Regions from separate parts of the Homo sapiens genome. Here region 1 is linked to region 2. The links come from fine-mapping of genetic effects on plasma protein levels. Region 2 holds a variant in brackets. A gene starts in the other region. All regions are shown on their reverse strands.

Region 1 (3,020 bases), not on the chromosome of region 2:
ACAAGGGATCCGAGCTCCGGGCAGGAGCCAAAACCACCATTGCAGATATGCTCCCAGTTTTACCAGCTAATTAGATGTTAAACTTACATTGTAACAATCAACCTGATATTATTGCCTACTGCAGATAGAACTAGAATTCTAATTAGGTCAGAATTCTAGCTGGGATTGTGTAGATGGACAAATTCTTTCAGGGTAGTTTGATATCACTGCTATAATTTATGGTAAAGACAGTTGGGATCATACTGGCAAACTAAGTACCTGCCTACACTCCCTCAGGCCTAAAAATGCCATTGATTATCCCAAAAAAACTGAGAAAATAATCCACTACAGTACGGAAAAAGACAAAATAGGGGCACTAACACACAAGAAGCACTGAAGGCTTTCTGAAAGAGTAATCAGGCCTGATGTTTGTAGTTTTAATGTTTACTTTGCAAACAAAGGTAGAAACAGAGTCTGGAGCTCGGATGCCACCACCAGAGAGGGTGGCTGTTCAGCCTCTCTCCTGTGCAAATTAACCTAATTCTGAACCTGTCTTGGTTTAATTCGCACAATTTCAGGTGCCATGCTAGGTACACCACAAATATACCTCAGGGACCTCAATTGCAAAAACCTGGACTGCAAACGTTGGGGCTGCAGAGTTGACTAGGTTAATAAATTCTTTCTGAGGTAAAGCAGATAACACCCACTAATAAAAAGAATGAAACTTCATCGTCCCATTGGCATCCTCGGGTGTGCAGGTGTTCCTCAGAGCAAAGCCCATGGTGTGCCCCATCGCCAATTCGTGACAAGGCAGGGGGCGGGGGGCGGGGGAAGGAAAAAAGCCTGGGATAAGAAATCAGAGAATACAAGTCGCTTTTAAACAAAAAACAGTGACTGTTAGAGTACACCCACCATTGGGGTAACACGCAATAATCTCTCAGCATCACTGACTCCAGCACAGCTGGTCCCCTGGAAAAGGCACGTTGCCGGAAGGTTTTGTGTGTGACCAAGCAATTGGCCATCCCACGCCTTCGCCCTACCAGATGGGTCCCTGCCCCCGGGAGTCCCCTCCCCCTCCACCCTCCAAACCCAGGCAGCGCCCGCCCCTGCCCCCGCTGATTGACAGGCCGTGCAGCTACTCCTGGGAGCCTGGCTTTCGGGGGCAACCCAGGCAGAAGTGACTATCTCTGCAGCAGCCAATAGAAGCCAGGAGGCGGGGCGGGGAAGCGGCGCGGTCAGGTGCTCCGCTCCAGAGTTGAGCGCAGGTGAGCTCCTGCGCGTTCCGGGGGCGTTCCTCCAGTCACCCTCCCGCCGTTACCCGCGGCGCGCCCGAGGGAGTCTCCTCCAGACCCTCCCTCCCGTTGCTCCAAACTAATACGGACTGAACGGATCGCTGCGAGGGTGAGTCCAGGGGCGTGGGTGGCTTCCCTCCCGGGAACCCACACTGCTCCTCTGGGTCCCTAAAGCAACGTCCCCTCCTTGCCACTGCACATCTAAGAAGCCCAGGCCTCGGTGGGCGGGATGACTGGGAATTGGGAACATAACCTACGCCGCGACCATTCTGGGTGGCTAGGATGGAATCCTGGTGGAGAAGATGGACACCCCCGCCCTTGACGTCTACCCGAGCTACACAAACCTACTCCTTCTGCACTTTCCCTCTTCCGTTTAATCGGTGCCCCGTCCTTCCTGCTCTCCAAGTCTGTTTGTGGAGGAAGGGTTGGAGGGGAGAAAGAACTGGAAAGTACTCAATGAAATGTGGAGCCAGATCCAGGGATTCCACTGTTTTGTGCAGCATTTTGTGCACGAAAAAAAAAAAAATTCTGATTGTTTTCATTCCCCACCCCCCACCTCTGTTTATTGCTCTGTGTCATGGATGTGATGTTGAGTCTTCTTGCCAAACATTCCTAAGCTTTAGACAACACTTAATCTTTGCTTACTTTTGTTGGTCCCAAGAAAGCAGTTTTCTCCTGCTTACACATGTGCCGAATTAATTTGCTAAGATAGATGAAAATGAGGTGTTCCATGTAGTTTATTTCCTCTGCTTTTAGCCTTAAATTACATTTGGTTGATACTAGCCTTCCTTGTTTTAAAAAGGTGGGAGAGAAAATTAGGGGGAGAAAGGACAGAGAGAGCAACTACCATCCATAGCCAGATAGGTGAGTAAATATATTTGCAGTAACCTATTTGCTATTCCTTGCTGCAACTGTGTTTAATGTTCCTTCCAGAATCAGAGAGAGTATTGCCATCCAAGAAATCGTTTTTAAATATGACATTTGAGCTATCATCTTGAGACCAATACCTAAAACAATTTCAGTTTAAGAAATGTCTAGGTATGGTGAAAACACAGTTTAAAACCAGCAAAACAGAATTTATTGCCCTCAGCGAATACCCACAATGTACATATACCTTGTATTTCTGAAAGCAAAGCAAGCATGCCAAGTAGTTTTTATTTACCTGTACCTATAATACAGCAAGGTGAAACAGGATATATTTTTGAAGTTTAAAAATGTCTTCAGGCCGGCTGCGGTGGCTCATGCCTGTAATCCCAGCACTTTGGGGAGCCGAGAAGGGTGAATCACCTGAGGTCAGCAGTTTTGAGACCAGGCTGGCCAACATGGCGAAACCCTGTCTCTACTGAAAATACAAAAATTAGCTGGGTGTGGTGGCGGGCGCCTGTAGTCCCAGCTACTTGGGAGACTGAGGCAGGAGAATTGCTTGAACACGGAAGGCGGAAGTTGCAGTAAGCTGAGATCGTGCCACCGCACACCAGCTTGGGCAACAGAGTGAGACTCCCTCTCAAAAAAAAAAAAAAAAGAAGTCTTCAGCTTAGGAAGATATCAAAAGGCAGTTTCAAGAGATTTATTTGTACAAGTGTGGTTTGATCTAAGTTTTGGTGGGTTTATAAATACCTTCATGCAGGAATGGGTAGAAAAATGAGAGAACAAAAGATCCCTGCTGGATGTGCACGCCTGATGAAAACTGACAAAATTTACATATCTATTGTTTATCCATACAGCGTCTTATTAGCTTTCTTCAATAGA
Region 2 (2,520 bases):
GGTGTGAGTCACTGTGCCCAGCCATGTGTTTAGACTTTTAACTAATCTCTTTTTTAGTTTCAAGCCTTATCGTCCGCCTCTGTAGACCACTCCTGTGCCTGTTTCCTGATCCTTCCAAGGGCCATTGTATTCCCTGTCTGCTGCCCCTCTTTTGGATTCTTCTGCACATTTTTTTGTTCATGCATTCATTCATTTATTGTTTGATTAATGACAGGGTCTTGCTTTGTCTCCCAGGCTGGTGTGCAGTGGTGCGACCACGGCTCACGGCAGCCTCAGCCACCCAGATGTAAGCGATCTGGTTCCCACCTCAGCCTCCCGAGTAGTAAGTAGCTGGGACCACAGGCGGTGCCCAGGTTTTTTTTTTTTTTTTTTTTTTTTTCGTTGGTAGAGACAGGGTCTCACTGTTGCCAGGACTGCTCTGAAACTCCTGGTTTCAAGTGATCCCCTTGCCTCCTCCCACTTAGGCCTTCCAAATGCTGGGATTACAAGGCATGAGTCACCTCCAGGCCTTTTTGTACTTTTAAAACTCTGCATCAGTGTATAAACAATGTTATTAAAGTTTATATGACTTCAGTTACACTACATGGATCCTTTTTCACTCACGGTTGTGAGATTTATTTCTGTTGCTACATCCAGTTCTAGTCCATTTGTGTTAAGTGCCCAGTGTGTTTATCTACTGAGGGACAGTTATGTTATTTCGTGTTCACTATTATCCCATGCTACAATAAATATCCTGTGTCTCCCAGATACTTAGAAGAGTTTCTGCAGGGCACATGTGGGAGAGTTTGTTTCTGGGTCATGAGGTGTGTTCATCTTCCATCTTGCTAGATGCTGGCAAAGGGTTCTCCAGTGTGGTTGCATCAATTTACTCGCCCAGCAGTGTGCAGAGTTCCTGTTCCTCACATTTACCAACACTAGATAGTACCAGACTTTGATTTTTGCCAATCTGATGGGTTTGAAGTGGTACCCCTGTTTTAATTTCATGACCAGAAATTCAAATTTAATCTTTGCTGTAGGACAACAGTAACCCACTTATGCCTAGTGTTCCATTATTAGAACGCTAAGCATGTGGGAGTTTTTACATCATACTGCTCAAGGTCATCGCCAAGGTCTGATGTTTTTACTC[G/A]TGCAAAAATTTAAAAAATTGCAACCTCTGGCATAAATGGGTTGAGTGACACTTTTCCTGTTTTTATTGTTGGTCAGTGATGGCATATTTGCTGGGTTTTTTTGTTTTTTTTTTGAAACGGAGTCTCACTGTGTCGCCAGGCTGGAGTGCAGTGGTGTAATCTCGGCTCACTGTAACCTCCGCCTCCCGGGTTCAAGTGATTCTCCTGCCTCAGCCCCCTGAGTAGCTGGGATTACAGGCGTGTGCCACCACGCCCAGCTAATTTTTGTATTTTTAGTAGAGACGGGATGTCACTATGTTTGTCGGGCTGGTGTTGAACTCCTGAGCTCATGATCTGCCTGTCTTGGCTTCCCTAAGTGCTGAGATTACAGGCCTGAGCCACCGCTAGCCTATTTATTTTTTATTTTAAATTTTAATTTTCTATATAGAGACGAGGTCACTATCCTGCCCAGGCTGGTCTTAATCTCCTGGGTTCAGTCAATCTTCCCACCTTGGCCTCCCGAAGTGTCAGAATTATAGATGTGAGCCACTGTGCTCAGCCCAGAACTGATGTTTTCTAAATGCTGGGTGCTGAGAAGGATGTGTGGCTGGCAGTCTTGACTGTGTTATCTGTCTTTACCAGGCCAGTAACTTCTTTGGTCTGGTCATCAAGATAATCTAGCATCACCAGCAAGCATGCATGGAGAAGGATGGGCCCAATGTGGCCAAGATGGTAACGGGACCAGTAGAGAGCCCTGTAGAAGACATCTAGATATTCTGCCCTAAGAGCCCGGAGGGCCGGGCTGTCTCATGACCCTCTGACGTGCTGACCTGGACTCTGGCAGAATGTGCACACACACAGTCACACAGCTTCCTGGCTTGCGCAAGTCCCAGGAGGGCGGTGCCAGCCACAGGCTTTTCCCATTCGAGGGTTGGAAGCGTATCATCAAACCACATCAGAGTGCTGGGGGCCACCTGCCACCCATTCCCAACCCACTCAGCCTTCCTGGTGTTTGGGACATGCTTTGCTTTGGCAGTCAAGACAGCAGAACAAATCAACTTTTAAGGCCTTGTCACTGATAGTACAATTTCCATTATTTTTCATCCAAATTAGGATACTTCTGAAAATAGAAATGATGACTCTGGGATGCAAACGTTGGCTGTCCTATGTATAAGGAGATGGCTTTTCACGCTCCCAGTGACTGAGGAAGTTTCTCCCAGATGGCGCTGCTCTGAGCCTGGTGCAGGGTAGGCACTTTCAAAAGAGTGTCTCCTTGTATCTTCCATCAGCCTTGCGAGATGGGTATCTGTTCCCAGGGCCCCAAGGGAGGAAAACAGGACCTAGCTGGATCCAAGAGCTAGGCCTTTCTTTTTTTTTTTTTTTTTGAGATGGAGTCTGACTCTGTCGCCCAGGC

Direction of the effects. Alleles are on the strand shown, and positions count from the first base shown. The strength of an association depends on the size of the effect and on how common the allele is.
As copies of A replace G in region 2, the plasma level of the protein whose gene starts at base 1,208 in region 1 goes up (weak association).

What was found. A credible set is the group of variants that fine-mapping cannot tell apart. PIP is the chance, under the fine-mapping model, that this variant and not a neighbour inherited with it causes the effect. Protein levels are from antibody-based Olink assays in UK Biobank. Linkage for the fine-mapping came from a reference panel and not from the study's own genotypes, which makes the PIPs less certain.
Region 1: ENPP5 starts here. The variant in region 2 is the best candidate, but not a certain one, in a credible set for the plasma level of the ENPP5 protein (UK Biobank, PIP 0.53).

Annotation. Positions count from the first base shown.
Region 1 is chr6:46,169,168-46,172,187 of GRCh38, reverse strand. ENPP5 (ectonucleotide pyrophosphatase/phosphodiesterase family member 5) reads left to right here and starts at 1,208. Exons shown (of 5, transcript NM_001290072.2): 1 at 1,208-1,380; 2 at 2,074-2,135. RefSeq lists a silencer at 977-1,036.
Region 2 is chr8:11,862,178-11,864,697 of GRCh38, reverse strand. All of the region lies in intron 1 of CTSB (cathepsin B), which reads left to right. Among named protein-coding and RNA genes, the nearest start is that of CTSB, 4.6 kb to the left of the region's middle. The variant G/A (reference allele first, on the strand shown) is at 1,127.